Homo sapiens: one gene and its partners. The gene in region 1 interacts genetically with each later gene. Each region holds a gene or a part of one and is shown in the gene's direction. Other genes may lie near its edges.

Region 1 (4,419 bases):
GATGCCTTCTATACATTAGTTCGAGAAATTCGAAAACATAAAGAAAAGATGAGCAAAGATGGTAAAAAGAAGAAAAAGAAGTCAAAGACAAAGTGTGTAATTATGTAAATACAATTTGTACTTTTTTCTTAAGGCATACTAGTACAAGTGGTAATTTTTGTACATTACACTAAATTATTAGCATTTGTTTTAGCATTACCTAATTTTTTTCCTGCTCCATGCAGACTGTTAGCTTTTACCTTAAATGCTTATTTTAAAATGACAGTGGAAGTTTTTTTTTCCTCTAAGTGCCAGTATTCCCAGAGTTTTGGTTTTTGAACTAGCAATGCCTGTGAAAAAGAAACTGAATACCTAAGATTTCTGTCTTGGGGCTTTTGGTGCATGCAGTTGATTACTTCTTATTTTTCTTACCAATTGTGAATGTTGGTGTGAAACAAATTAATGAAGCTTTTGAATCATCCCTATTCTGTGTTTTATCTAGTCACATAAATGGATTAATTACTAATTTCAGTTGAGACCTTCTAATTGGTTTTTACTGAAACATTGAGGGAACACAAATTTATGGGCTTCCTGATGATGATTCTTCTAGGCATCATGTCCTATAGTTTGTCATCCCTGATGAATGTAAAGTTACACTGTTCACAAAGGTTTTGTCTCCTTTCCACTGCTATTAGTCATGGTCACTCTCCCCAAAATATTATATTTTTTCTATAAAAAGAAAAAAATGGAAAAAAATTACAAGGCAATGGAAACTATTATAAGGCCATTTCCTTTTCACATTAGATAAATTACTATAAAGACTCCTAATAGCTTTTCCTGTTAAGGCAGACCCAGTATGAAATGGGGATTATTATAGCAACCATTTTGGGGCTATATTTACATGCTACTAAATTTTTATAATAATTGAAAAGATTTTAACAAGTATAAAAAATTCTCATAGGAATTAAATGTAGTCTCCCTGTGTCAGACTGCTCTTTCATAGTATAACTTTAAATCTTTTCTTCAACTTGAGTCTTTGAAGATAGTTTTAATTCTGCTTGTGACATTAAAAGATTATTTGGGCCAGTTATAGCTTATTAGGTGTTGAAGAGACCAAGGTTGCAAGGCCAGGCCCTGTGTGAACCTTTGAGCTTTCATAGAGAGTTTCACAGCATGGACTGTGTCCCCACGGTCATCCAGTGTTGTCATGCATTGGTTAGTCAAAATGGGGAGGGACTAGGGCAGTTTGGATAGCTCAACAAGATACAATCTCACTCTGTGGTGGTCCTGCTGACAAATCAAGAGCATTGCTTTTGTTTCTTAAGAAAACAAACTCTTTTTTAAAAATTACTTTTAAATATTAACTCAAAAGTTGAGATTTTGGGGTGGTGGTGTGCCAAGACATTAATTTTTTTTTTAAACAATGAAGTGAAAAAGTTTTACAATCTCTAGGTTTGGCTAGTTCTCTTAACACTGGTTAAATTAACATTGCATAAACACTTTTCAAGTCTGATCCATATTTAATAATGCTTTAAAATAAAAATAAAAACAATCCTTTTGATAAATTTAAAATGTTACTTATTTTAAAATAAATGAAGTGAGATGGCATGGTGAGGTGAAAGTATCACTGGACTAGGAAGAAGGTGACTTAGGTTCTAGATAGGTGTCTTTTAGGACTCTGATTTTGAGGACATCACTTACTATCCATTTCTTCATGTTAAAAGAAGTCATCTCAAACTCTTAGTTTTTTTTTTTTACAACTATGTAATTTATATTCCATTTACATAAGGATACACTTATTTGTCAAGCTCAGCACAATCTGTAAATTTTTAACCTATGTTACACCATCTTCAGTGCCAGTCTTGGGCAAAATTGTGCAAGAGGTGAAGTTTATATTTGAATATCCATTCTCGTTTTAGGACTCTTCTTCCATATTAGTGTCATCTTGCCTCCCTACCTTCCACATGCCCCATGACTTGATGCAGTTTTAATACTTGTAATTCCCCTAACCATAAGATTTACTGCTGCTGTGGATATCTCCATGAAGTTTTCCCACTGAGTCACATCAGAAATGCCCTACATCTTATTTCCTCAGGGCTCAAGAGAATCTGACAGATACCATAAAGGGATTTGACCTAATCACTAATTTTCAGGTGGTGGCTGATGCTTTGAACATCTCTTTGCTGCCCAATCCATTAGCGACAGTAGGATTTTTCAAACCTGGTATGAATAGACAGAACCCTATCCAGTGGAAGGAGAATTTAATAAAGATAGTGCTGAAAGAATTCCTTAGGTAATCTATAACTAGGACTACTCCTGGTAACAGTAATACATTCCATTGTTTTAGTAACCAGAAATCTTCATGCAATGAAAAATACTTTAATTCATGAAGCTTACTTTTTTTTTTTGGTGTCAGAGTCTCGCTCTTGTCACCCAGGCTGGAATGCAGTGGCGCCATCTCAGCTCACTGCAACCTCCATCTCCCAGGTTCAAGCGATTCTCGTGCCTCGGCCTCCTGAGTAGCTGGGATTACAGGCGTGTGCCACTACACTCAACTAATTTTTGTATTTTTAGGAGAGACGGGGTTTCACCCTGTTGGCCAGGCTGGTCTCGAACTCCTGACCTCAAGTGATTCACCCACCTTGGCCTCATAAACCTGTTTTGCAGAACTCATTTATTCAGCAAATATTTATTGAGTGCCTACCAGATGCCAGTCACCACACAAGGCACTGGGTATATGGTATCCCCAAACAAGAGACATAATCCCGGTCCTTAGGTAGTGCTAGTGTGGTCTGTAATATCTTACTAAGGCCTTTGGTATACGACCCAGAGATAACACGATGCGTATTTTAGTTTTGCAAAGAAGGGGTTTGGTCTCTGTGCCAGCTCTATAATTGTTTTGCTACGATTCCACTGAAACTCTTCGATCAAGCTACTTTATGTAAATCACTTCATTGTTTTAAAGGAATAAACTTGATTATATTGTTTTTTTATTTGGCATAACTGTGATTCTTTTAGGACAATTACTGTACACATTAAGGTGTATGTCAGATATTCATATTGACCCAAATGTGTAATATTCCAGTTTTCTCTGCATAAGTAATTAAAATATACTTAAAAATTAATAGTTTTATCTGGGTACAAATAAACAGGTGCCTGAACTAGTTCACAGACAAGGAAACTTCTATGTAAAAATCACTATGATTTCTGAATTGCTATGTGAAACTACAGATCTTTGGAACACTGTTTAGGTAGGGTGTTAAGACTTACACAGTACCTCGTTTCTACACAGAGAAAGAAATGGCCATACTTCAGGAACTGCAGTGCTTATGAGGGGATATTTAGGCCTCTTGAATTTTTGATGTAGATGGGCATTTTTTTAAGGTAGTGGTTAATTACCTTTATGTGAACTTTGAATGGTTTAACAAAAGATTTGTTTTTGTAGAGATTTTAAAGGGGGAGAATTCTAGAAATAAATGTTACCTAATTATTACAGCCTTAAAGACAAAAATCCTTGTTGAAGTTTTTTTAAAAAAAGCTAAATTACATAGACTTAGGCATTAACATGTTTGTGGAAGAATATAGCAGACGTATATTGTATCATTTGAGTGAATGTTCCCAAGTAGGCATTCTAGGCTCTATTTAACTGAGTCACACTGCATAGGAATTTAGAACCTAACTTTTATAGGTTATCAAAACTGTTGTCACCATTGCACAATTTTGTCCTAATATATACATAGAAACTTTGTGGGGCATGTTAAGTTACAGTTTGCACAAGTTCATCTCATTTGTATTCCATTGATTTTTTTTTTCTTCTAAACATTTTTTCTTCAAACAGTATATAACTTTTTTTAGGGGATTTTTTTTTAGACAGCAAAAACTATCTGAAGATTTCCATTTGTCAAAAAGTAATGATTTCTTGATAATTGTGTAGTAATGTTTTTTAGAACCCAGCAGTTACCTTAAAGCTGAATTTATATTTAGTAACTTCTGTGTTAATACTGGATAGCATGAATTCTGCATTGAGAAACTGAATAGCTGTCATAAAATGAAACTTTCTTTCTAAAGAAAGATACTCACATGAGTTCTTGAAGAATAGTCATAACTAGATTAAGATCTGTGTTTTAGTTTAATAGTTTGAAGTGCCTGTTTGGGATAATGATAGGTAATTTAGATGAATTTAGGGGAAAAAAAAGTTATCTGCAGATATGTTGAGGGCCCATCTCTCCCCCCACACCCCCACAGAGCTAACTGGGTTACAGTGTTTTATCCGAAAGTTTCCAATTCCACTGTCTTGTGTTTTCATGTTGAAAATACTTTTGCATTTTTCCTTTGAGTGCCAATTTCTTACTAGTACTATTTCTTAATGTAACATGTTTACCTGGAATGTATTTTAACTATTTTTGTATAGTGTAAACTGAAACATGCACATTTTGTACA
Region 2 (4,419 bases), on another chromosome or scaffold:
CTGGTGGAGGGGCTGCGGGAGGCCAGCGCCGCCCGGGAGACGGACGCCCACCTGGCCAACCCCGTGCTGCCCGACGAAGTGCTGCAGGGTGAGCCCCGACCCCCCGCTGCCCCCCAGTCCCTTTCCCGCCTCCCCGTCGCCGCTGATAGCGTCTCCTCGCAGAGGCAGTGCCTGGCTCCATCCGCACGGCCGAGCATTTCCTGGGCTTCCTGAGGCGGCTGCTGGAGTACGTGAAGTGGCGGCTGCGTGTGCAGCATGTGGTGCAGGAGAGCCCGCCCGCCTTCCTGAGCGGCCTGGCCCAGCGCGTGTGCATCCAGCGCAAGCCCCTCAGGTGCGGCCCCAGACAGCGCGCGGGGTGGGGGCCCGGCAGGTCCCGGTTATGCAGAGCCGTGTCCTCCACGCCTGTAGCCCCAGGTCACCACTGCAGCATCAGGAGTGAGTGAGCTGGGCGAGGCACGTGGGACCTTGTCTGGTCTGACCTGGGAGGTCCGGGAGCAAGGTTGGAGCTGATCCTGGGTCCGTGCGTCGGGCAGGGGCCTGGCAGGCAACACCTGGCTGGATTGGAGAATCTCCCCCACCCAAGAGAGAGTGGGAGCACCATTTACAGAGGGGCGGGCTGGGGGAGGAGCCAAGGAGGGTGGGAGGTGAGAGCTGGGAGCTAAGCCAGGCCACAGCGGCAGGGAGGGAGTGTGTTGAGAACCAACTGGTGGGGGCCTGGACAGGGGCTTCTGCTGGGAGCAGAAACCAGTACCAGGGCCTCGCAGGCTGGGAGCTGGAGGAGGTGTCCCCGGCCCATGTATCTTCCCACCGATGCCTCTAATCTTCCAAACCTGAGGGCAGGGGCGTCCCCATGGAGTAGTCTGGGCGCATTTTGGGGGAGTCAGTCTCTTGAGGCACAGGGCAGGCAGAGAATGACCAAGGGATACGAGGGGGCTTTTCCTTTGGGTAAGTCATGGGTCTTCTTTGAACTGCAGTTTCCTCCTTTGTAAAATGGCCAAGGAGTCGGGTCTTTACTTCACAGGGTTCTTTGGTGGGTTAATGAGAGAGCAGCGAAGCCAATCACCTACCCTGCCCTGAGCACTAAGGAGGAGCTAAGCCCTTTATGTTCCTTACCTCAGTTGCACCCCCAGTACAGCATCCCCACCCTGCAAATGAGGACACTGGGACTCCCAGAGGGGAAGCCTTTGCCCAGAGCCACACAGCACTGTGCCCGGTAGTTGGGGCTTGAAGCCATGCCTGTGGGCTCCAAAGGCCCTGGCTGCCCTGCCTCTGTGGGTGAGGCCACCTTCCATGTGGGTTTGCCCATCTTCCCCAGGATTGGAGACTTGTGAGGGCAAAGAGGGGATCTCAGTCACTCAACACACATTCCCCAAGTGCCTGCTTCATGCTGGGGACACAGCCGTAGAGGCTCCATGGCCCAGTGGAGGGGACAGACTCATCCTCAGCTAGCGACCAGCCGGGGTAGGCGCCTGGGGTTAGAGGAGCCAGGCTGGGAGGGCTGACGTGCGGGAGGCAGGTTTGCAAGTGTGACTGCCCACCTGGCTTCAAAGCCAGCTGCTCTATGACCCTGCCTCGGCCCTGCCTGTGTGTGGTTGTGGCCGAGTGGCCCTGCACATGCGTGAGTGTGTGGACGTGGTATCCGTGGGACTCTGTGGGATGTGGGTGTTGACTGCATTCCTCTGTGAGCCCATGGGGTTCCGACACCGTGTGTGTCCCCATAGGTGCGTGAGAGGCAGTGGGAGAGGCTCTGGGTGTGAATGCGTGACCATGTGGCCATGCGGGATTAATGCCATGACTGGGGGGTTCTGGGTGTGATTGTGCGTCTCTTGTTTTGATCAGAACCCACTTAGGGCCAGGTGCAGTGGCTCACACCTGTCATCCCAGCACTTTGGGAGGCTGAGGCAGGTGGATCACGAGGTCAGAAGTTCAAGACCAGCCTGGCCAACATAGTGAAAGTCCGTCTCTACTAAAAGTACAAAAATTAGCTGAGTGTGGTGGCAGGCACCTGTAATCCCAGCTACTTGGGAGGCTGAGGCAGGAGAATCATTTGAACCCAGGAGGCGGAGTCGAGATGGTACCAGTGCTCTCCAGCCTGGATGACAGGGCAAGACTCCATCTGAACAAAGAAAAAAAAGAAAAAGAAAAAAAGAACCCACTTAGGAGGTCGTGCTAGCAGGTGTGACAAGTGACCACATGACTCTGGAGTGTCTGATTATTGCTCTGTCTGTGCCATTATGCGGCAATGGCTATTTGTGACATGCAGGTGTACAGCGTGGGGGTGCAAGTTTCCAAAACAGGCCCAGTGCCCACCCTCACTGAGTGCTCATTGGCTGGGGAGACAGGCACGTGACCGTCGTGATGGCGGAGGCAGGGCTGCTGGTCCTGCTCATGCTTCCGTCTGCCCCCCGACCCCGTCTCTCCTCCCCGCCAGATTCTGTGCTGAACGCCTCCGGTCCCTGCTGCATACTCTGGAGATCACCGACCTTGCTGACTTCTCCCCGCTCACCCTCCTTGCTAACTTTGCCACCCTTGTCAGCACCTACGCCAAAGGTAAGCTCACCTTTTTCTGTCCCTGCTGGGCCTCCTAGCAGCTGGAATCAGGGTCCCAGCAGGGTCTAGAGGGTTGTTGGCAGGACACACAGGGCTTTGTGGGGTTTGGCTTGGAAGTGTGGGCCCTATTTTGAAGGCAGTGGGGAGCCATACATAGTTCTTGAGTAAGCCTTGTGCTCAGATTTACATTTTCACAGACTTCCTCGGGCTGCAGAGTGGAGAAGGATGGCATGGGCAGTGGTAAGGGAGGAGGCCAGAGAAATTCTATGGGGTCAGCTCACACTAGAGGGCACGGTAATGAGTTGATCTTTGTGCTCCTGAGGGCACTGGGGAGCCATGGCAGATTCTAGCAAGCAAGGTGCCAGGTCAGATTTGTGCTTTTTTTTTTTTTTTTGAGACGGAGTCTTGCTCTGTTGCCAGGCTGGAGTGCAGTGGTGTGATCTTGGCTCACTGCAGCCTCTGCCTCCTGGGTTCAAGCAATTCTCCTGCCTCAGCCTCCCGAGTATCTGGGACTACAGGCGCATGCCACTATACCCAGCTAATTTTTGTATTTTTAGTAGAGGTGGGGTTTCACCATGTTGGCCAGGACGGTCTCGATCTCCTGACCTCATGATCCACCGGCCTCGGCCTCCCAAAGTGCTGGGATTACAGGCGTGAGCCACCATGCCCGGCCCAGAGTTGTGCTTTGGAAAGATTTCTTCTGGGTGCTGAACGCAGTGGCTCATGCCTGTAATCCCAGCACTTTGGAATGGTTAGGCAGGCAGATGACCTGAGGTCAGGAGTTCGAGACTGGCCTGGTGAACATGGCGAAACCCCATCTTTACTAAAAATACAAAAATTAGCTGGGGCCAGACATGGTGGCTCACGCCCATAATCCCAGCAGTTTGGGGGGCCGAGGTGGGCAGATCACTTGAGGTCAGGAGTTTGAGACCAGCCTGACCAACATGGTGAAACCCTGTCTCTACTAAAAATACAACAATTTGCCAGGTGTGATGGTGGGCTCCTGTAATCCCAGCTACTTGAGAGGCTGAGGCAGGAGAATTGCTTGAGCCCAGGAGGCAGAGGTTACAGTGAGCCAAGATTGTGGCACTGCACTCCAGCCTGGGCAACAGAGCAAGACTTCGTCTCAAAAAAAAAAAAAAGGCCGGGCGTGGTGGTTTACGCCTGTAATCCCAGTACTTTGGGAGGCCGAGGCGGGCGGATCTCGAGGTCAGGAGATCAAGACCATCCTGGCTAACATGGTGAAACTCCGTCTCTACTAAAAATACAAAAAAAGTTAGCTGGGCGTGGTGGCGGGCGCCTGTAGTCCCAGCTGCTCAGGAGGCTGAGGCAGGAGAATGGCGTGAACCCAGGAGGCAGAGCTTGCAGTGAGCCGAGATCGTGCCACTGCACTCCAGCCTGGGCGACAGAGCGAAGACTCCGTCTCAAAAAAAAAAAAGAAAAAAAATAGGCCTGGCATAGTGGCTCATGTCTGTAATCCCAGCACTTTGGGAGGCTGAGGTGGGTGGATCACCTGAGGTCAGGAGTTCGAGACCAGCCTGACCAATATGGTGAAACCCCGTCTCTACTAAAAATACAAAAATTAGCTGGACGTGGTGGCACGCACCTATAGTTCCAACTACTCAGGAGCCTGAGACAGGAGAATTGCTTGAACCCGGGAGGCGGAGGTTGCAGTGAGCCGAGATCACACCAGCTGCACTCCAGCCTGGGTGAAAATGAGAGTCTGTCTCAAAAAAAAAAAAAGAGTTCTTCTGGCAGGGACTAGAGGCAGGAGACTGGGTGGCAGGCAGGGACCTGAGCAGGAGGGGAGGGGCCTTGGCCAGGATGTGGCCATGGGGAGAGAGAAAGGTATGGTTTGGAGAGAGATGT
Region 3 (4,419 bases), on another chromosome or scaffold:
GCACTCCAGCCTGAACAACAGAGCGAGACCCTGTCTCAAAAAAAAAAGTTATTTTCTTTTAAAAGATCAATGTATAAATGTGTGAAGTAGAAAATCCTGTATTTTTAAAATTAATTGATTGTATATCTTTCTGAGAATTTTAATACAGCTAAAAAGTATGTAATTTTTTCCATAAATGAAAACACAATACGTAAATTGTTGTATAACCCCCATTTTTCATTTATATACCATTGAGGATATCTTTCCATGTCAGTAATGAGAGGTCTACTATATTTTAAAAATAAAATTATGCATATTTGTCCTAAGAAATTCAGACAATGCCAAAGGGCATAAAATGAAGACTCCTCTGCAGTAGGGACATCTGTCAGGTTTCTTATTGATCCTCCCACACATTTTCTAAACACATGCACTGTAGCCTAGTGACTTTTTAAACTTTTAATACTGTTTTTAAACATAACGTCACCACTGTACCTCTCATTTTTTATCACACTTGTATTTTGGTGTGGGTTTCAAAACTATTGCTAGATTATCCAGAAATCCTTATAGTTGTGGAACTCTCATTTTCCTGGTAATTATTTGCAGTTTAGTAGTTAATGATTTGTTAAGTATCCCTATACTGGGTCTCCTTTCGAGAATAAATAGCTTTGGCTGTTGTTACAATAATGTTTCTGTTACATCTTCTGGATAGACAGCCTAGTTAACTCATTTGCAAAAGATGTTCTGTACTCTTACTTGCTGGTCTCAGCCAAAGTGTGTGTTTATATAGGCACAAAGTTAATAAATGAAACAAGAGGTGGCTTGAACCATTTTCTTGCCTTTTGAAGCTGTGTCATTTAGGTTTATGTGTTTGGCATAATTTAATAAACTGAAAAACAGTAAACTATAAAATGTGTAATAGACAGTTACTTTTCCCTCAGGGCATACACAGACTGCAATTACTAGAAATTATTTCTCTCTATTTGAAGAAGATCTGCTGATGTTGCCTGTTTTCTTTTTAATAGGAGAAGTGTTTGAAATTGAAGAGCATATCAGCGAGCGACAGGCAGAAGTATTGGCTGAGTTTGAGAGAAGGAAGCGAGCCCGGCAGATCAATGTTTCCACAGATGACTCAGAGGTCAAAGCTTGCCTTAGAGCCTTGGGGGAACCCATCACACTTTTTGGAGAGGGTCCTGCTGAAAGAAGAGAAAGGTTGCCTTTCTAAATATTTACTTTTTTTCTTTATTATAATCACAGGGTTCTACTCCAAATTTTGGTTGATCATTTAGTTGAACTTTAATAGAATGTCTCAAATCATGTTAACAATATCTTACTGTGTTTATATGAGTTAGCCCATAATCTGTCTTAGGCCAATTTTTACCGCACTATTAATGTTTCTTTTTTGTGTTTGTTCGTTTTTGTTTTGTTTTGTTTTGTTTTGTTTTGTTTTGTTTTGTGTTTTGAGACAGAGTCTTGCTCTGTCACCCAGGCTTGAGTGCAGCGTCGTGATCTCGGCTCACTGCAGCCTCCGCCTCCCGGGTTCAAGCGATTTTCCTGCCTCAGCCTCCCAAGTGGCTGGGATTACAGGCACCTGCCACCACATTTTTCTTTTTTGTATTTTTAGTTATTTTTTATATTTTTGTATTTTTAGTAGAGACAGGGTTTCACCATGTTGGCCAGGCTGGTCTTGAACTCCTAACCTCAAATGATTTACCCACCTTGGCCTCCCAAAGTGCTGGGATTACAAGCGTGAGCCTTCGTGCCTGGCCCGTTTTTCTTTATAGACTTGGAAGAGGGTGCTAACATGCTCCCTTGCCTCCCCTCCCCAGTGCGAGTTTTGAATTGGATAAACATTTGTTGTTGGGCTTTGAAAATTGAGACATCAAATGCATTCCATATCAATGACATAGAACAATGATAAATGTTTCTTGGATTTTATTGAAGAGGGGTACCATCCTCAGATAATGCCCTCTTGTTATTTGCAGGTTGCGAAGTCTTAGTTGTGGTCTAGTCACACACAATTATGAGGAGCCCCTCTGGTCTCTCTGTCCACTGTCTCATCTACCCTTCATCATCCAGCTTGTTGGAAGGGTTTTTTCTATTACTCCCTTGAGGTCCTTACCCTTATTTACTCTTCAACCTGCTGCAAACTGACCAACCCCTACCACATTAAAATTGCTCTTTGTTAAGATCACCAATCCACCTTTACTAAGAATAGCCCTAGTATACTGCCAGCCACTCCTCCTTGAAATACTCCCTCCTTGAACTACTCCCTTTCCTTCACTCTCCTAATAACAAATCCTCTTGATTTTCCTCTTCTCTCACTAGCTAATTCTTCTCACTTACCTTCTAAACCTCTTTTTCTCTGCCTGCCCTTTACAGGCTGCCTTTTTCTCTACTTGCCCTTGGTGATCAGCTCTACTCCCATGGCATCATTCACTGTGTGTTCTGATGATTCCCAAATCTCTCACTGCAGCTTAGGTATCCCACAGGTACTTCAAACTTGAGACATCTGAATTGAAATATTTCCCCACCTCTCTCCTATACTCATACAATTCTTAGTTGAAAATCTGCCTAGCCTCCTTTATAATCCATTAGCAAAATCTGGTCTGTTCTACTTGCGAGATACAACTCCAGCTATCTTCTTTGCTCTATCTTTACTGCTTTCAAATCTGCACTGTTGTGATAGCCCCAAACATGTTGTGTTAATTGCTTGCTTAAAATCCTAGATTGTCTTCTCATACTTGGAGTAAAAAACTCTTACCATGGTCTGTAAGGTCTTCAGCCTTACTCATGTCTCCCTTCCCCAATTTACTAGAATAGCCACATTGGTCCTTATGGAATATGCTAGTTCTTTTTATGTCTTTCCACATAATTGGTCTACTTTTATTCTTCTGTCTTGTCTTTTAGAGGCTTTTTTTCTTCCTTTTTTTTTCTTTGAAACGGAGTCTCGCTCTGTCACCCAGGGTGGAGTGCGGTGGTGCAATCTCAGCTCACTGCAACCTCCACCTCCCAGGTACAAGCCATTCTCCTGCCTCAGCCTCCCAAGTAGCTGGGACTACAGGCATGTGCCACCATGCCTGGCTAATTTCTGTATTTTTAGTAGAGACGGGGTTTCAACACGTTGGCCAGGTGTTGAACACCTCCTCAAGTGATCCTCTCAACACCTCCTCAAGTGATCCGCCTGCCTGGGCCTCCCAAAGTGCTGGGATTACAGATGTGAGCTACCGCGCCCGGCCTTTCTTCTTCATTTTTTATTAACCTGGATCCCTGTCAAACTTCTTATTCTTTCGTTTCAGCATAGATGCCACCTATTCAAAGAAGCCTTTCGTCACACCTAACCCCTCTGTTCTCTGTCATAGTATGTTATTTTATTAGCCTTTTCAAAGGGTATACTTTTTTATTATTGTTTAGTTTGTTTTTTCCACCAGCAAAGTCTATCTTATTCATTATTATGTTCCTTAAATGAATCCTTTGAGTCACTACTGCTACTATCTGAATTTCAGTCCACGGTTGTGACTCAGAGCGTCACTACAACAGTACTGTCTGATTTCCCTGCCATTATTCTTCCCTTTTAATCCATTCTTTGTACTGTTTCAGGGATCTTTCTCATCTGTAAATCCTCCTGAGCGTGGCATTAGCAATTCTTTGTGACCTGGCTCCTCCTTGCATTTGCAGCCCTATTCTTCACCAGTCCTCTTCTATGTTCTACGCTCCAGCCATATTGAATTATTTGTGACTGCAAGCTCAACATGTTTTTCTTACCTCCAGGCCTTATTTGTTTAACCCTCTGCCTGACATTTTCTCATTCTTGACCCCCTTGACCTGATTAACTGAGGACTCAATTTACATATTACCTTTTTTTAATGAAGCCTTCCCTGATCCTCTAAGCTTAGTTAGATGCCCGTTACAAAGTCCCCTCTAGCCCTCTGTGCTTACTGCTATAGTGATAGGTAATATAATGGATTATAGTTTGCCAGTACTCTCTGTTGTTTCCCCAGGACTAAGCTACTTGAAATCAAGAACTGATTCCTAGTCATCACTGTATAGTTAGCACCTGAGTCAGTATCCAGTACATTGTGGCACTGAGTGAAAGTTGGCAGTCTTCACAGACCAAGTGGTAGCAGTGTAGGGGCTCATTGACTCTAAACTGTATAGAGTAATTGCTTATAGTTGAATTTTGGAAATTTCCAAATAGAGAAGACTGAGTGGGAGAAACCACACTGGGAGTTTAGCCATCCCCACTTGACTCTTAAAGAAGGTTCCTGGAGGGCCGGGTATAGTGGCTCATGCCCGTAATCCCAGCACTTTGGGAGGCTGAGGCAGGAGGATCACTTGAGCCCAGAAGTTCAAGACTTGCCTGGGCAACATAGCAAGCCCTTCTCTCTACAGAAAAATTTAAAAATTAGCCAGTTGTAGCAGTGTACATGTAGTCCCAGCCAC
Region 4 (4,846 bases), on another chromosome or scaffold:
GGGCTCACCGTCATTTGACCCTCTCAGGGTCCTCAAGAAGCACCAGCCCCAGGCCTGGCATGGAGGATGTGCTCATTTGTCCCCTGCCCCAGCTGAGCCAGGTGGGAGGAGGCAGTGGGTGCCTATCTGGGGAACCTTCCCCCTCCACCCACCTCTCCCTGCAGCCATCTCTGCAGCCAGGCTGGTGCTGAGCTCAGCTACGGGAAGGTACTGACAGACACAGAGCCAGGTGACACCTGAGGCTGGGGGAGGGGTGCAAGAGCTGACTCAATATCACCCGACATCCCCAAGTCCCCTCAGCTGCTAGGCCAGTAGCTCTGAGGACCCTCTTGTTACTAACTCATCTTCTCCCTTCCCTGCTGCCCAGCTGGCTGTCCAAAAGTATGAGGAGCTGTTCCCAGCTTTCTCTGATTCCCGGGAATGCAAGTTGATGAAAGTAAGTGCTGGGTGCTCCGGCCTCCCCCTTCCCGAACCTCAGACGGGGGTGGCTGGGGCTCCAGGTGGGACAATCGCCAAGACTTGTCCAGTAGTTCTCAGAGGGTGTCTTTGTTTTGTTTTGTTTTGTTTTGTTTTGTTTGGCCATTTGAGTCTCCATTTTCCAGATGAAGAAAGTACAACTCGGGGAGTGCTGGAGCTCAGGATGGCTAGGTGGACACACACACACACACTACACACACCACACCACACCACACACACCAAACATACACTACACACACCACACCACACACATCACACCACACCACACACACCAAACATACACTACACACACCACACCACACACATCACACCACACCACACACATCACACCACACGCTACACACACACCACCCCACACACCCCACACACACTACACACACACCACACACAGCAAACACATCACACACCACACATATCGCACACACACTACACACACACGACACACCCCTCACACAAAACACATTGCACAGTACACACACCACACGACACACCCCCCCACACACAAAACACACTGCACACACACCACACATGACACACCCCACACACACACATTGCACACACACTACACACACCACACACACCCCACACACACACCGAACACACCACACACGCAACTCAACACACACCAAACACCACACGTGCCCCTACACACCACACCCCAACACACACACCACACACACACACACCTCCACCACACACCACACCCAACACACACACCCCCCATACCCACACACACACACATTCTGTGTGATGTTCTATGTTGGTAAGGTTGCCCTGAGAGCAAGCCGTTTCTGATGAATAGGGCAGCAGGATCGCAACACGCCCGTACCCATCCCCAGTTTAACCCACACGGATTGACCCTCTGAGAGTCCTCAGGAAGCCCCAGCCCCAGGCCTGGCATACAGATAGCGTGTCCTTTCATCTAATCCAGGCCAGACCTCAGGTCAGCATAGGCCCCTGACCCCTCTCTGCCATTTGCTTGCAGAAATTGCTAGAGGCCCACGAGGAGCAGAATGTGGACAGCTACACCGAGTCGGTGAGTGGCCAGCATGGGGGGCCAGGCCCCTTCACGGGGATGGGTCTCCTAGGAAAGCTGCCCTTCTCAGACACGCTCTCCATGACATTCACCCATTTCATCTGGCCCCCAGCCCACTGTGAAGTTCTTTCTCCAGTCACCCCAGAAACCTTACAAGTAGCGCCAAGAGGCGCAGGGAGTGTTCTCCCCATTTTATAGATGGTGGCACTGAGGTTGGGGAGGTCAGGAGGCTCGGCCTTGGCCCCTCAGGGACAGAGCTGGTGTTCAGAGCCACATCTGTCTGCCTCTGAAGACCAGGGTTCCTTGAGTCCCCCAGGTGAGTGTGTGAGACTCACAGTGGGCGCCTTGGGCACCCAGGAGGCACAGACGGGGAGGGAAGGGGTGAGAAGGAGAGTGGAGCTGAGGACATGGGAGAGGTGCCAGCTTCCCTCTGCCTGGTGGAGCCGCCCACGCGGCTCTCTCTCCCTTCCCTTTCTCTGTTCCCAGCATTCCCGGGCTTAGTGGTGTCCGGCTCAGGTCCTGATTCACTCCTCTAATGGCACATGTCAAGCATTTCTCCCTAGGTGCCCCTTGGGAATGGAAGCCCCTAACTGAGGACAGTGAAAATGCCATCCTGTTCCTCCTGCCCCAGACAGTGGGTGGCAACTCAGCCAGGAGCTCAGGGAGGGGATGCCCAGCAGGCCGTGGCTTCTCTCCCCCGTGTCCCATGGCACTCAGGAGTGGCCTTTTCCATATCTCCAGGCCTCAGTTTCCCACCCATTCAGTGAGGATGCTGGACTTTTTTTTTTTTTTTTGAGACGGAGTCTCGCTCTGTCGCCCAGGCTGGAGTGCAGTGGCGTGATCTCGGCTCACTGCAAGCCCCGCCTCCCGGGTTCACGCCATTCTCCTGCCTCAGCCTCCCGAGTAGCTGGGACTACAGGCGCCCACCACCACGCCTGGCTAATTTTTTGTATTTTTAGTAGAGACGGGGTTTCACTGTTAGCCAGGATGGTCTCAATCTCCTGACCTCGTGATCCGCCCGCCTCAGCCTCCCAAAGTGCTGGTATTACAGGCGTGAGCTACTGCGCCCAGCCATGGACCTTTTTTTTTTTTTAAAGCTACAATATCTTTCTCCCCCAAGGGAAATGATGTGCCCAGCATAGTCAAGACAGACAAGAGGGAGCTCCCATGGCTGAGTTGGGGCCTCAAGCCCTCCCTCTACTCCTCCTCAGAGACCAGGGGTGACAGAGACAGATCTTGAAAACCTTGGGACAAGTGCCCTTGGGCTGCAGGGTTGGGAACGGGGGGAGCATGGCCAGCCTATCACCTGGTGTGCCCTCAGGTGAAGGAATACGACTCCATCTCCCGGCTGGACCAGTGGCTCACCACCATGCTGCTGCGCATCAAGAAGACCATCCAGGGCGATGAGGAGGACCTGCGCTAAGCCCCACCCAGCCCCCCAGTGCCCGTCTTCCTGTCCCATCTGCTCAGAGAGAGGTGGGGCCGAGACTTGCTGGAGAGCTTCCCTCCTTTCCCATCTGGGGAGTGCCGCGGGCCACAGTGGGCAGGTGGCACCGGGGGTCAGCATGCAGGGGCGCCAGAGGCCCAGGCTGCTGGCCGGACAGTCACCCTCTGTTCTCGCTACATCCCTTGCCCCCTGTCCATTTATTTAAGCCCCCATAGGTGCCCTTCACCCCCAAAACCAGCTGTACAGAATCTTTGATACAGACCTATTTGCTAGGGGTGCTGCCGGGGATTTGGGGTCAGCATCTGGCCCCCTATCTCCTGACCAGCTGAGTCATGAGGCCGGTTTCTCTCTCTCTCCCACTTTTGTCCCCCAGCCAAGCTCTAAAGCACATGTAGCCGCTGAGACCTGCTGTTTCTGCTGGGGGCAGGCTCCTCTTCCCCCAGCCCCGGGAGCCTCCCCCAGCTTCCTGCAGCCCCGACCTCTCAGGTTAGACCCTGGGCCCTGGAGCTTAGGGGATTCTCCCCACCCCAGCCCCACACCTGCTCCTTCCCTAATGCTTTGAGGTTTTCTTGGTTGGAAGCTGCAGCTGGCCCAAGAAAGAAAATAAAAAACAACACTTTTGCATGAGTCTCTCTTCCTCCTCACCTCTGCTACCCACTCTGCCCCTGGGCCAGTCACCAGTCCCTCTCACACTCCTGGTCCCCCAGACTCTGGGCGAGCTCTTGGGAGGTCAGGCGCATGCATCCTTGAAACACGTGTGGGCTGGGTCAGTTTCTAGGTGGGGGAGACCCAGGGACGGTGGGCCTGGGGAGGAGCTCTGGCTTGGGAGTCCCAGAGCGCCCATCTTGATCTTTCTCTGGGTTCTTGGGGTCCAGGGGCCTTGATTTCCTCAACTGGGATGCACGGTGGTGATGCCACCCCTCAGAGCCAGTGGGAGGGTCGAATGTGACGGTCCTCATGACTGCTTTGGATGAGAATGGGTGGAAGCCCACCGAATCTCCCATGTCCACATTTCTCTGGCAGGAAGGCTGAACGCCCCGGTGACAGTTGTTCCATCTGTCACAGGACGGGGGAGGAAGCGGCTTTGGTGGGCAGAGTCTGAGGCCCGAGTGGGTCTGGGGAGTGGGGGAGGAGATAGCAGGAGCCTTTGCCCAGGAAAGGTGGGCAGAAACCAGCTGCCTCCACCACACTCCACAATGTGCATGTTGGGGGCCCTGTCTGGTACACATGTGCTTTACCCTGCCCCGCGCAGGGCCCCTCGCTACAGAGGAGACAGCTGAAGGAGGCTCAGTGCCCAGGCATGATGGGAAAATGTCAGGAAGTGAGCAGGGGCAGTAATTGCACAGAGGAGGGGCTGCCTAGGAAACCAGGGTGGACTCCTGGGAGAGGGGCTCCAGCCCAGAAAGCCTAGAGAAGTGCAGGTGAGGTTCAAATTCCTTGACACCTGCCCTGCTCCTCTCTCCCCTGCAGCTTCTCCCACAGCTCCAGTCCACTGATAATGGCAGCAAAGACTTCTGAGACCTGAAATTGATTACCATGTCTGCCCCCATCATGGGTGCTGGCTGAAGGATAGTGTGAGAATCTGTTTCTGTCATCCATGACCTAAATCAGTGATGGTCCGCCCTGGCTATGCTTTAAAGTCATTAAAAGTATCCAGACTTGGGGCTGGGTGCTGTGGCTCATGCCTGTAATCGTAGCACTTTGGGAGGCCGAGGCAGGCGGATCACTTGAGGTCAAGAGTTCGAGAGCAGCCTAGCCAACATGGCAAAACCCTGTCTCTGCTAGAAATACAAAAATTAGGCATGATGGTGCAAAAATAAAAGTATCCAGACTGGGGCCGCACTCTGATAAATTGTGGTTTGACTGAGGTTTCCTACCCTTTGGGG
Region 5 (4,419 bases), on another chromosome or scaffold:
ACTGATATGTAGCAGTGTACTTACCAAAACAAAATTCTTTCAATGGAAATTTCAGTAGAGTTTTTGCTAATATAATTTTACTAGCATTTGAAATACTTATAAACCAGCAATCATGTTTTCTTGAATTTTAAAAGCACAAGGTACTAAAGAAAAAATTCCAGCAAAATAGAAAAATTAGAGCTGTACTTTGAAAGGAAATTATCAAATTACTTATAATGTCAGTCTGCTTCTGGCTCCAAAGTTCCTTTGGAGAAAAGTAATTTAAGAAACTCTTTTGTATTAAGCATTTATGTAAATTTTGCTTTCCATCCTGTTTTGTGAAAGAGTTTGTACTCAATACAAAAGGAAGTTTAAAATTACTTAATTGTTATATCTTCATGTAAATATATTCATATTTCAGGAAAATGAGCTGTGTTTGTCTTAGAACTTCCCCTGTGCCCTGTCACTTTTTTTCTGCCTTATCGGCAAGGGTGCTAGAGATCTGCATTGGGAAGCCCAAGTTAAGGATAGCTGTGGTATTGGTCAGAAGAGATCATATTTTAACATTCTTATGTGAAAGAGTTTCATTCCTCTTTTACTTTTTGGTATTTGTTTTAAAATTGATTTGAAATTAAATATGAGAAACTGTTGGCAAGATAATTCCTATTTTTCTTTCTCATTTTCTCTTAATCAGAAAAAGAATAAACCAAAGGAACCACCCAAAGTACCCAAATCAGCACCATTTTTCATTCCAACAATTCCTGGCCTTGTACCCAGATATGCTGCACCTGAACAAAATAATGATCCCCAGCAGGTAAAAAACAAATTAGAAGATTCTAAGTATATCGGTGTATGTTTGTATGTGTTTTCTGCACTTCTTTACCAAGACCTAGTTTTACAGATATAGGGTAAATTAATGATAGCTTTTAATTACAAACTATACATTTTTGGGTGATACTTGAATTATTTGAATAATGTGTATTTGTTTTTGTTTAAGTCTAAAGTGGTAAATCTTGGAGTTTTGGCTCAAAAATCAGATTTCTGCTTGAAACTTGAAGAAGGACTGGTAAATAATAAGTGTAAGTTGAATTATAAGATATTTTAACTAATATATTTAGCTTATTTTACTGTATATGAGGAGAAATTGAAGGAAATATCAGCGTTCTCAGTAGTTAAGATAGTAAAAATCAAAAAGATTGAAATTTTGGTTTTAATTTGACGTAATTTTAGCATTTATATTAAATAAGCCCACTAAACTCAAATGGTATTGATATTATAAAAATCTGTTGAAGATTTTTCATATATCTAACTTACTTTTTGCTATTGGAGATGGACACAGTTATTGACTATATTTATAATAAGGAGATCCTTCTTGTTGTGAATTAAATGTAAAAGTTTTGTTTGTCGTTTTTGTAGCAAGTAATTTGCAAGTCTTTTGTTTTTATTTATAATTTGTAATTCAGCGGACTGCTTAGGTGATTTCATATATTCCTAAATTATTTTATTAAAAAGGAAATGTTTTAATCTGTCTGTTGTGTTCATATATTTAAATTTCGAAGGCTACAGTCTGTAGCTAATAGTGATTAGCCATAAGAACTGTAATCATTTAAAAAACTGTAGTCACTCTCCTAATAATTTTAACTTGTCCTCTTGTTTTGATTCAAATGCTTTTGTTTTCATACCGAGATTACTTGAGTCCACATTAGCAAAAGTCAGAGAATGATACTGATGAGCCCTTGTAAATGACTTGTTATGTTTATGGGGAGACAAAGAAATAAAAACACTATTGTTTACTATATACTGAAGGATCTAAAAGTGATTAGACTTTTGTCATTGGTGATACTCTTTTTCAGAAAGCTAAAGCATAGTCATTGCAGTTCTCAAATGACTCATAAAAATAGCTGTAAGTGTACTGAGTGTGTTTTCCTAGGGTGCATATGAAACAATTCTTCTAGGGAAAAGAAGTAGGTTTGGGCTGGGTAAGAATAAGGGATGGGGTCTTCCCCCTCTGATTTTATATATTCTGTACTGTTAGTAATATAGTTCCTAATGATTATGTACTTTTATAACTTTATAACAATAGAAAAGAAAAATTATTTTACCTCATCAGATTCCCAATGCTAACCACTATTAATACTTTTGTATGTATCGTTATAGGCTTCTTAATTAGGATTTACTCTGAGAGAAGATATATGAGCATTTTAAAATTCTAACGTGCCTGTTGCAAGGCATTAGATTTTCTTTATTAACAGGAAAAAGGTTTAAATTACAGAAAAAAAATGTGTTTTGAGTACTTTCTCTTATATTGGTGTCATCGTTTGTACTGATTTTCAATTATTTTGGGTTTCATTCTACTACATAATATGAAAAAATTAACCCACAGGAAGAATTTCCTGTACCATTTAAATATATCCTATTTGGGGTATAAAAGGAAAACTGTAATTTTCTAAGTTAAATGATTATAATCAAGTCATAACTGGATTAAAATTTAATGCAGATGACACTGCTCTCAACCTTCTGAAAGAATCAGGCCCATCAGGAATTGAAACAGAGCTGCGAAGCTTGTCTCCTGATTGTGGTGGGTCCATAGAAGTTATGCAGAGCTTCTTGAAAATGATTGGGATGATGCTGGACAGAAAGCGTGATTTTGAGTTAGCCCAGGCATACCTTGCATTGTTTCTAAAGGTAAGTCTAATGTAAGACAGTACTGCCCAGCTTGTCTTCTTCTGGGGCAGTGCTATCTAACAGAACTTTCTGCAAAGATGGGTATGCTGTATATCCATCCTTTCCAGTATCATAGCCACTTGCCACATGTAGCTATTGAGTTCTTGAAATGTAAATAGTGTGATCAAGAAACTGGATTTTTAATTTTATAGAATTTTAATTAATTTAAATTTAAATAACCGCATGTGGCTAGTGACTACCACATTGGACAGCTAGACAGTGCAGCTTGGGAGTCTTGTTTTGTTTTTTTACTCAACTGCACAATAATTTTGACTTTACCCCCTGACATTTTTATGCTATCTGCTTGATCCAATGTGCTGAACCATTAACTTTTCTTTTTTTAGTGGTTAGTTACATTTTGGAAGTTTTTTGTGATTATGAATAGAAAGTTGGGTTTGTTTGTTTTTTTTTCTACTACTGAAATCAAAATGTTCACTTCTATCATTATTAAAGGAGTTTTGATCATTTGACAATAAGACTGTTACTTTTATGATTAATATAGTGGTGAACTCATGTTTTGAGGGTCTACTTTAGTGGTATAATGTGTTGAAGGAGGTAGATGATGCCGATTTTTGGTGATAATAGATTTGATTCTTTATCCCATTTATACCTAAAATGAGTTCACTTGATCTGATTATTTAAAAGTATCAGGACTGTCCTTAGGTGGAGAGGAGTGATGACCACTTTAATTCTACCAAGGAAGTCACAGTATCATAAAGGACCTTATAATAAAAAAAGTTTGATAGAGGAGGGGAAAATGGGAGATAGTAATAAACCAGCGCTTAAGAAAACAAATATTCACCTAGTGTCTTTTGTGGTTCCTTGGTAGAAAAATTGAATCCAGATTAGGTAAAATTTTAATTTTCTTAAATGTTCAATCATCATATTTTTCTTTGCAGTTACACCTTAAAATGCTTCCTTCAGAGCCAGTACTCCTAGAAGAAATAACAAATTTGTCATCCCAGGTGGAAGAAAACTGGACCCATTTGCAATCACTCTTCAATCAAAGCATGTGTATTTTAAATTATCTCAAAAGTGCTTTGTTGTAAAAATAAATTTGTGACTAAACAAAGACTTTCATATTAAATGGGTTCAATTGAACTCATTTCTTATTTTCCAAGTGTCAATGTGAAAAGAAAATAAATGCTAGCACTACTGACTAGTCAGTATATCTCCACTTTAAATGCTAAATACTTTCTTGAAATAAAATCGCACCTCCCGGCCAGGCATGATGGATAATGCCTGTAATTCCAGCACTTTCAGAGGCCAAAGCGGGAGGATTGCTTGAAGCCAGGAATTTGAGCCCAGCCTGGGCAACATAGCAAGCAAGATCCCATCTCTACAAAAAGTTAAAAAAATAAATTACACCTGCCTTTTGTTTTGAAGACTTAAAGAATCTGCTCAAATGATTTATTTTCTGAGTCTCTTCACATTAACTTTTATATGATTTTTAAAAAATTATTACCTGCTTATATTTTTTGAGTATCTGTTTCATATAAAGAGATGCTGCATGTTCACTGTGAAGTATTGCTGAATTAAATTGAAAATGTCAGATAAAACTGATACATGATGTAGTTATAAAAATGCTGTTATGAAGAAAAAAGGAATGCTTTTTTCCTCGGTGGCCTTTGATAAAAATATGAATGATTGACTCTCAGAGTTGGAGGATAAACTAATCATCTTCTAGCACAGCCCTGTTGTGTTGCAGGAGAGGAA
Region 6 (4,419 bases), on another chromosome or scaffold:
TAAAAGACAGAAAGAGAGAAAATCTTAAACCAGCTGAGGAATAAAGATTACTTTCAAAATAGTAACAATAAGATTGACAGTTGGCATCTCAGTAGAAACAGTGAAAGCTGAAAATCATTGGGATTATTTAAAGTGCTGAGAAAAAAAATAGTTACCATTTTAGAATTCTGTCCCCAACAGTAATATTCTTCAAAACTAAAGATGAAAGTCCTTTGGCTGCAACAATACCATATATGATGTAATGTGAACCAGGAAAGTATCTTGTCTGGAACAAGTTGTACATTTGGTTGTACAGAGTACAGGATGGCAGTATTTTGCCCTGTTGTTGGATTTGTGTATGTGCCTATGTTTTCAAATATTTTGTTGTTTACCTTTGTGATGCACCAGATGTTCGTATGTTTTCATATTTATCAATTAATATTGGTTATGTAAGAATGCAGCATCTTAAAGATATTAAAGATGACAGCATGGACTGTATTTTATTCAGTTTTGTATTTCTGCTGATTAACATGGTTCCTGACACTTCTGGACATCTGCTTGTTGAAATCAAAGTAGCTTATCAAGATAGATAAAAAGTTTAAAATTTAAGAATTGGTTTTTTTTTTCCCCCTTTTCTAATACAGGTTCAAGCTGAAGTTCCTGGATCTCCCATATTTGTGATGAGACTAGCCAAACAATCTCGTCATCTGGAGGTGCAGATCTTAGCGGACCAATATGGCAATGCTATCTCTTTGTTTGGTCGTGATTGCTCTGTACAACGCAGGCATCAGAAGATTATTGAAGAAGCACCTGCTACTATTGCTACTCCAGCAGTATTTGAACACATGGAACAGGTACATATATTAAAAGGCTTACTTTATGTTTTCTTACATAGAACATTTTTCATTCAGTTCATGTACCAATCTGAGAACAATGGCATTTTAAGCAACGATTCTGAATAATTAATAAAATTATATCCTTTTCTTAGAGAAAAAAAATTCTACTGTTCTCCCACTAAGAGAATTGTCAAGGAACATGTCAAGCTTCTAAAAGTAGTTAACGCTTTCTAAAAAAAATCAGCGTACCATTTCAGGATACAGGGATAAAGAAGAGAAATGTTTTGGAATTTTTAATCTTATGATTGATTTTTTTAAGAGGCTCATAATCAGGTAGTTTTATTTGCTGGGTTGAGTATCATCAAGTCTTCAGCTGAATTTAATCAACTCTATTATCGTTTTTGGAAAGTCCTCTAAATATCTTCAGAGTTCACACATTCTATCTTTTTGTATAGAAAGTAGTTTCTCAAAGTCATGAGCGATGCCTTCGGAATAACTATAGTTTAGAGGCCTGAACATAGTCTTTTCTGGAGTCCTAACCCAGTCTCTACATCAAAATAGATTCTTCAAAATATATTTCATGTGTGTTAGAGGTCTATTTCCTATGTTGTGTATATATTAGGATGTACTCTTGAACTGCTGTAATAAAGATGCCTTCAAAATACAGTGGCTTGGCCGGGCATGGTGGCTCTTGCCTGTAATCCTAGCACTTTGGGAGGCTAAGGCGGACAGATCACTTGAGCCCTGGAATTCGAGACCGGCCTGGGCAATATGGTGAAACCCTATCTCTACTAAAAATACAAAAATTAGCTGAGTGTCATGGCACACGTCTGTACTCTCAGCTGCTTGGGAGGCTGAGGTGGGAGGATCACTTGACACTGGGAGGTCAAAGCTGCAGTGAGCCTTGATCATGCTACTGCACTCCAACCTGGGTGACAGAGCAAGACCCCATCTCAAAACAAATAAATAAATAAGCAAAATACGGTGGCTTAAACAAGGTGTAAGTTTCTATTTCTCTTTCATCATAGTTCAGAGATGAGCTGTTACCAGAAACAGGTTTATTGCTCACCTGTTGCCTGTTTTTGTAAATAAAATTTTGTTGGAACACAATGATGCTTATTTATTTATGTGTTATTTATGGCTGCTTTATCACTACAATGGTAGAATTGAATAGTTGTGACAGAGGCTATATGGCCCACAAAATTGAAAATAATTACTATCTGGCTCTTTACCAAAAAAGTTTGCCAAACTTTGCTCTTGGACATTGTCATCTTCATGATTAAGCTAACTCACACAAGATTATGTTCACATTGTGGCCTGTGGGAGGAAGAGACAGGGGATGTGGAGGGCAAGCATATGGAAGCATGATCTTGAAGTCACATACATCACTTCTGCTCACATTCCACTGGACAAAATTCAGTTACACAATTATACCTAGCACAAAGGATGTTAGGAATTGTGATCACTAACTGGGTGACCATGTGCTCAGCAAAAATTTCGATTTTATTCCTAAAATGATGAAGTAGAGAAAAGTCACTGGAGGGCATTTCATAATCTGTGCCTCAGTCTGTTCCTCTGGCTACCTATTATCCCTTTATCCTTTTTCCTACTTTCAGAGCACACATAGCCTTTGTCCAAGGAAGACAACCTGAAGCCCCATCCAGTTACTAGTAACTGGATGGGTTATTACTGGAGGTGATTCCGGATCTCTATATGATGTATATTCTTCTCCATTAGATATGTATTGTGGCTTTTCATGGGCCAGTGACTCAAAATACAAGTTATTTACCCAGTATTATATCCCCTGCCTTCACCATACACCCATATACAATGATGGAATAGGAACAGGATAACTCTCATTTGGAAAAATGAAAAATACATAGCAATCGTTGGTCCATAGCAGTTATCAAATCCTCCTTTTTAGGTAGGAATTGCAATGATTCCCTGCTATATAATAGAATACTACCTCAGTTAGACCTGGCTGTCCCTGGTTCTGCTACTGCACACTCCAGAGAAGTGCAATAAGGGAGTAAATCCCTTGTTCATTGTCCTTCAAGACACCTGACATTGTTTTCTGGGAAGTTCTTCCTCATTCAGTTTTCTCTGTGAGTTGGGCTTTGGAGACTATGCCTTCTTTGGCAGAACTTTCACAACCCACTTCCTGCTGGTGCAGGATTGAGGGCACAAATATCCCAATCATCAGTCGCAGGCTTTTGAAGGCCAGGTTTGTGGTTTGTTTAGAAATACAATTCCTTCAAATACTTAACTAAGCTTCTGGGCTATTTGCTTGCAATCAGCTTTGGGTTGGATTAATCATACTCATAGATTTCTTCTAGATATAGAAACTTTTCTTCTATTATTTACTGGCTTCTGTGCTTAGCCTATCTCTCTTGCCTTGATTTAATATTGGCTATCTTGGGGCCAGCTGAAACTAAAGCAGCACGTTTGATCTTTGACACTGAGTTGCTTCAGGGTGATAATCTCATTTTCTGTTTGGGGGGATACAAAAGAAGTTGGCTTTTTCGACACTCTGACCCTTTCAGACCATCTTTTTTAAGGTTTAGTTGGTGTGTGGTCAGTATCCCAAGTTATTGTAGGAAACAGTTTACCAAATGTTGTGTTATCCCAACAAGGAGATTATCACCTTTCCAGCCTGCAGTATCTGTTTCTCTGCTACCCACTACCCTTTTGCTAAGCTAGCATCTCATATTTTAATATTTTTAAACAGCAACATTCTACCTGCACTTAATAATTCCTGTATCGATTAGGATACAGGTTAAACTGCTATAACAAAAAGGTCCAAAAAACACAGCGGACCCCCCCAAAAATAGAAGTTTATTTTTCTCTCCCATCCTAGTCTGAGGTGAGCTTTTCAGGGCTGGTGGAAGTGTTTTATTCCACGAGACCATCTTGGGATTCAGGTTCATTCTTTCTTTTCTTTTTCTTTCTTTTCTTTTCCTTTCTTTTCTTGGTGTTCTTAGTGTGTTCTCATTTGCATGATTGAAGTTGGCTTATACTATCATGACTATGTTCCAATGAATAAGAAGGAAAAAGCCAGGAATAGAGAATGAGACATTTCCTTTTCAAAATATGACTTAGGGCTGGGTGCTGTGGCTCACGCCTATAATCCCAGCACTTTAGGAGGCTGAGGTGGGCGGATCACCTGAGATCAAGAGTTCGAGACCAGCCTGGCCAACATGATGAAAACCCATCTCTACTAAAGATATAAAAATTAGCCTGACATGGTGGCATGTGCCTGTGATCCCAGCTACTCAGGAGGCTGAGGTAGGAGAATCACTTGAATCCGAGAGGCGGAGGTTACAGTGAGCCGAGATTGCGCCACTGTGCTCCATCCTGGGTGGGTGACAAAGCGAGACTCCATCTCCAAAAAAAAAAAAAAAAAAAATATATATATATATATATATATATATATATATATATATATATATATATGACTTGGGAGTTATGCATATCACTTACCAATGCTGGTGTCCTGTTTGTCAAAACTTAGCCACTAACCAGGCCAGGCATGGTGGCTCACGCCTGTAATCCCAGCACTTTGGTAGGCCAAGGCGAGTAGATCACTTGAGGTCAGGAGTTTGAG
Region 7 (4,419 bases), on another chromosome or scaffold:
CGTTTTTAATCCTAATGAGGTGACTGTGGCTGGGGGGCTTCTATGTAGCTTCAGGATTGGGGGCCAGAAGGACCAAGGCATGATTAGAGGGTTGGAAGTTTTGGCCCTACCCCAACCTCTTCTCCTACCTCCATCGAGGGCAGAGGGGCTAGAGATTATCAGCAATGGTGTAATTAATCATGCCTGTGTTATAAAACCTCCAAAAAACCCATGGGTTTTAGAGAACTTCCAGATTGGTGAATATGAGATGCCGGGAGGGTGGTGTACCTAGAAAGGTCTTGGAAGCTCTGTGTCCCCCTTCTGTAACCTTTGCCCTATGTATCTCTTCCATAAAAGTGAAAAAAAAAAAAAAAGAAAAAAAGTTTCTCCATTTAAGATAAATTAGTAATAGTACAGATGGTTTGTGGATGTGACAGAAATTGTGGTGCCGGCATGCAGGCCATAAAAATTTGGAAAACCCACCTCAGATCATTTCTCATTTGGTAGTTGAAGAAAGTTAGGCCCAGGGAGGCTAGAACTTTGCTAAGGTCACAGGACTAATTAGCAGTAAGAGCTAGGATGATGCTTGTTACCCTTCCTTACTGCCTTCGAAGTGCTCTTTCTTCTCCACTTTCTAGCTCTAGCTCTAGCCATTTTGATATCACCATCATTTTTGTCCTATTTGTGTACCAGGTACCAACTGTGCTATTACATACTAAATTTTTAAAATTAAATCAACTCAAAATTTTTATTTAAATTTGTCTTAAAAGGATTGTTTTTACTATCATAAATACATACTTGCCATAACTAGAAAGTAACTCTGAAGATAATTACAGTGAAAACAAATGTTATTAGTTCTAGCTGAGATGTTGTTGCCTGGCTGGTTCTCTGCCTGAGGTCTGTTCTGTTACTATTAAAAGATTTGCGACTATGAGACAAGTGTCAAAGACAGTCTAGCACCAAACCGAGACTTTCTTCTTTTTTCTAATCAGGATTGATAGAGAATTCACTCTCTTTGATCCAGAGTTATTAATACTGTTTGTATCACCTAAACCCATCGATTAGACTGCCTTCAGTTGTCTTGGACTTCACTAGGGTTGTGTGCTGCACACTCCCGTGTTGCTTTGGGATGCTTGTGAATTTTTTGATACCTGCCTGAGCCTTTCTGCTGATGGTCAGCAAGAGCACTGTGGGCTTTAGAAATATGTTGTGAAGGTGCCAGTGCTGTTTTCTCTGTTAAGTCTGACTTTGTCCTTTGTTGAGGATCTTAACAATCGGATTATTCCTTGTCTAACATCACCTTACGATTATTGGCACTGCCTTCTCAATGTTACTGTTCAATGAAAGGGGTGAATGCTGGCCAAATTCTTGCCAACTGTGAAAGCGGAAAGTTGCTGCCTTAATACTAGCTACCATCTCTTCATTGCTCCACAAGATGATTCTAGAAGTGTGAATGGGTTTGTTCCTATTTTTGGTGGTGTTTAGGTTGATTTTGATAACTCGGGATAAAACAGTCTTATTCATGGCTCAGTGGATTTGGGGAGTTCAAGCCTCTGGTTTCTCTGAGTGTCCTTTCTTGGCTGATGACATTAGATATTAGTTTGCAGTCTTGGTAATGGTGTGAGGCGGTCTTATAATGGTAATGAGGTTTGATATATAGCATGGAGGTTTACCTGTTCACTGTGAGTAATTTAAGTGGGATTTACCGACATGCTTTTTATTTCTCATATAAACATTTAAACAAGCTGGCTGGGTATGGTGACTCCTGCCAGTAATCTCACATTTGGGAGGCCAAGGTGGAGGATTGCTTGAGGCTAGGAGTTCGAGACCAGCCTGGGCAACATAGCGAGACTATTTCTACTATAAAACTAAAATATAGAAGCTTATAAAAGCCCGTAGACACTTAATATGTAATCAGTGGCATACTATCCAGCTAATCACATCATCAGTGAGAATTCATGACTTAATCAGATGGTGATCCATTTTGTTCTTTGTTCCATATGTTGCTGTAATAATTAACAGTGTCTCAGTATCTGTAAGTAAACAATGATGTAGTCTATAATCTGTGAGTCTTGGGTAGCTCCCTTTTGCTTGATAGCAGGAATGGATATTTAGTGATTACAAGTGTTTCACATACTGAGTAGGAGTTAGAATACTTTTGTAATAAAAATCGTTTGTGGTGTATGTTTTACTACTGTGATCACTACTAGATTTAAATCTCTAGTTATCATTTTGCTATGTGTTGGAATGGTAATTTTAGTATATTTATAGAATGGTAAATTTGGATGGGTCAGTTCAACAAGGCGTTTGGGAGACACTGGATTCTAAGCCAGGTTTTAAGGAGACATGAATAGGCTTTGGGGGAGGGTATATTCAAGTGTGTGGAACCTGAGTTGAGAGGTAACTAGAATGAAGAAACAATTACATGGGTTGTCATCTAACTTTAGAGACTTTTTTTTTATTAAGCCAAGCAGTATTACCTTCCACTAGAGCAGAGTTTGGTAAACTATGGCCCATGGGGCGGGCACCCATTTGTGAATACGAGTTTATTGGAACACAGGTTATTCAGTTAGTATTGTCTATAGGTGCTTCCGTTTTACAATGGCAGAGGTGAGTAGTGACAGACACCAGATGGCTGGCGAGGCTAAAATATTTATTCTCCACTTTGTTACATTAGTACCAGATGGAGGAATTTATATTCTAGAAAAACACCACCTCAATATTCTCTCTTGTCACTTTTTTGTATGTCCCTTGTCATTTGATACTTAAGGCATCGTGGCTGTCTTTACATTTTTATTGTAAATATCTTACTATCATTTTTTCCTATCCTTTATGTATGACCTAGTGTGGTCAGAATAGCATACTTGAGAAACTGAGGTGTTTATGGATTTTAACAGTGAGATTTTTATTATAATGAGTTGCTGCTTCGTTTCCTAAAGCAAGACATTTCTTTATTGCAGCGTCCTTGAGACTTTGTGCTGCGCGGGGTGCTCACTCAATCTTGGCTACGTGTACAGATGCACGCCCAAGAATCTTGATTACAAGAGAGACTTGTTTTGCCTCAGTGTTGAAGCCATTGAAAGGTAAGTTTGATATATAAATGTTTACCTCACAACTGGTGTTTCAGAAAGTTAAGGCACGGAATTGTCAGAACTAAATCAATACTGTTTGGTTAAATATATTTTCAAGTAATGATTTCTAACAAGCCAGTAATTTTTTTTTTTTTTGCTTTGACCTCCTTCTTTATTTGGTATTGGAAAAGTCAGACACTCTAAATTGTAGGAGAAAACACTGTGAGAAAATTTTTGGAATAAAAGTATATTCAGTTGTTTTTAAAAATTGAAAGTAGTTCAGTAGGATATTGCCCCCTGCCCCCAGCTTTTTATTTTTATTTATTTTAAAACTTATTTTTTTAAGATATGGGGTCTCACTCTGTCGCCCAGGCTGGAGTGCAGTGCTGTGGTCATAGCTTTCTGCATCCTTGAACTCCTGGGCTCCAGCGATCCTCCTGCCTCAGCCTCCCAAGTAGCTAAGACTACAGGCATATTGCCCGGGGTCTTGTGTTGCCCAGGCTGGTTTCAAACTCCTAGCCTCAGATGATCCTTCTGTCTCAGCCTCCTGAATAGCTGGGAACAAGTGCATGCCACCACACCCAGCTTGTATTTTAACCTTGTACCGTACTTCAGTTATGTTTTAGGGTCCTCTGAAAAGCAAATTGTGTCAGAAGATAAAGAGCTTTTTAATCTTGAAAGCAGAGTTGAAATAGAAAAGTCTCTAACACAGGTAATTTTATTCTGTACATTTTATATCTTTGTATGAACAGTTTGTCAGTGAAGAAGTGCTCCCCCACAAACGATAATTCTCATAACGTCATCTGTGTTGATTGCAGGAAGAGTGTGCTTATTTCATTTCAGTTGTTAGTAAAGTTGATTTTTGGGGAACTCAAAAGCTAAAGCTTAATCAACAAAATAATGAGGAAGACATGTCATGTCAAAATCAAAACTATATATTAAAACACTGCAAAGCTAGAAATACATCTTTGATTCAAATCAGTATTTTGTTTGATTCAATTCTTGTGGTATAAATAGCCTTGTTGTTGGATGTTAACATTTTCTCATTGCCAGATAGGTGAGATGGTGATGATTGTATAAAAGAGATGTAGATTATAGGTTGAGAACTACTGTTGATAGAATTATGCTTTATTTTTAAAAAATTTATGCCTCTAAATAGTTTTGTTAAACACTGAATATCTACCTTGTAATGTATGACATATCCAAAATTGCATTAAGTGTATATCTTAATTATATTTAACCATGTATAATTTTTAATTATATGTGTGTTTCTTTATTTTTTTATTTTTTAAATTCAATAGATGGAAGATGTCTTGAAAGCATTACAAATGAAGCTGTGGGAGGCCGAATCCAAATTGTCCTTTGCCAC

The links.
Region 2: changes in KRAS (region 1) and ERCC2 are lethal when combined (synthetic lethality), as found in Homo sapiens cells (2 studies listed by BioGRID, with this or other methods).
Region 3: changes in KRAS (region 1) and PRPF4 are lethal when combined (synthetic lethality), as found in Homo sapiens cells (2 studies listed by BioGRID, with this or other methods).
Region 4: changes in KRAS (region 1) and NAPA impair growth when combined (synthetic growth defect), as found in Homo sapiens cells (2 studies listed by BioGRID, with this or other methods).
Region 5: changes in KRAS (region 1) and WDR36 are lethal when combined (synthetic lethality), as found in Homo sapiens cells (2 studies listed by BioGRID, with this or other methods).
Region 6: changes in KRAS (region 1) and ACACA are lethal when combined (synthetic lethality), as found in Homo sapiens cells (2 studies listed by BioGRID, with this or other methods).
Region 7: changes in KRAS (region 1) and MIS18A are lethal when combined (synthetic lethality), as found in Homo sapiens cells (2 studies listed by BioGRID, with this or other methods).

What each region holds. Positions count from the first base shown.
Region 1 is NC_000012.12:25,205,484-25,209,902, reverse strand, and holds part of KRAS (GTPase KRas), read left to right. Parts: coding exon 1-108; 3' UTR 109-4,419. UniProt on the Homo sapiens protein: Ras proteins bind GDP/GTP and possess intrinsic GTPase activity. Plays an important role in the regulation of cell proliferation.
Region 2 is NC_000019.10:45,359,655-45,364,073, reverse strand, and holds part of ERCC2 (general transcription and DNA repair factor IIH helicase subunit XPD), read left to right. Parts: coding exon 1-88; intron 89-162; coding exon 163-331; intron 332-2,431; coding exon 2,432-2,550; intron 2,551-4,419. UniProt on the Homo sapiens protein: ATP-dependent 5'-3' DNA helicase. Component of the general transcription and DNA repair factor IIH (TFIIH) core complex, not absolutely essential for minimal transcription in vitro.
Region 3 is NC_000009.12:113,277,944-113,282,362, forward strand, and holds part of PRPF4 (U4/U6 small nuclear ribonucleoprotein Prp4), read left to right. Parts: intron 1-1,001; coding exon 1,002-1,188; intron 1,189-4,419. UniProt on the Homo sapiens protein: Plays a role in pre-mRNA splicing as component of the U4/U6-U5 tri-snRNP complex that is involved in spliceosome assembly, and as component of the precatalytic spliceosome (spliceosome B complex).
Region 4 is NC_000019.10:47,486,378-47,491,223, reverse strand, and holds the end of NAPA (alpha-soluble NSF attachment protein), read left to right. Parts: intron 1-367; coding exon 368-436; intron 437-1,462; coding exon 1,463-1,513; intron 1,514-2,834; coding exon 2,835-2,936; 3' UTR 2,937-3,587; downstream 3,588-4,846. UniProt on the Homo sapiens protein: Required for vesicular transport between the endoplasmic reticulum and the Golgi apparatus. Together with GNA12 promotes CDH5 localization to plasma membrane.
Region 5 is NC_000005.10:111,123,132-111,127,550, forward strand, and holds part of WDR36 (WD repeat-containing protein 36), read left to right. Parts: intron 1-673; coding exon 674-793; intron 794-976; coding exon 977-1,058; intron 1,059-2,476; coding exon 2,477-2,664; intron 2,665-3,602; coding exon 3,603-3,752; 3' UTR 3,753-4,419. UniProt on the Homo sapiens protein: Part of the small subunit (SSU) processome, first precursor of the small eukaryotic ribosomal subunit.
Region 6 is NC_000017.11:37,260,099-37,264,517, reverse strand, and holds part of ACACA (acetyl-CoA carboxylase 1), read left to right. Parts: intron 1-623; coding exon 624-833; intron 834-4,419. UniProt on the Homo sapiens protein: Cytosolic enzyme that catalyzes the carboxylation of acetyl-CoA to malonyl-CoA, the first and rate-limiting step of de novo fatty acid biosynthesis.
Region 7 is NC_000021.9:32,269,050-32,273,468, reverse strand, and holds part of MIS18A (protein Mis18-alpha), read left to right. Parts: intron 1-2,939; coding exon 2,940-3,062; intron 3,063-3,665; coding exon 3,666-3,762; intron 3,763-4,351; coding exon 4,352-4,419. UniProt on the Homo sapiens protein: Required for recruitment of CENPA to centromeres and normal chromosome segregation during mitosis.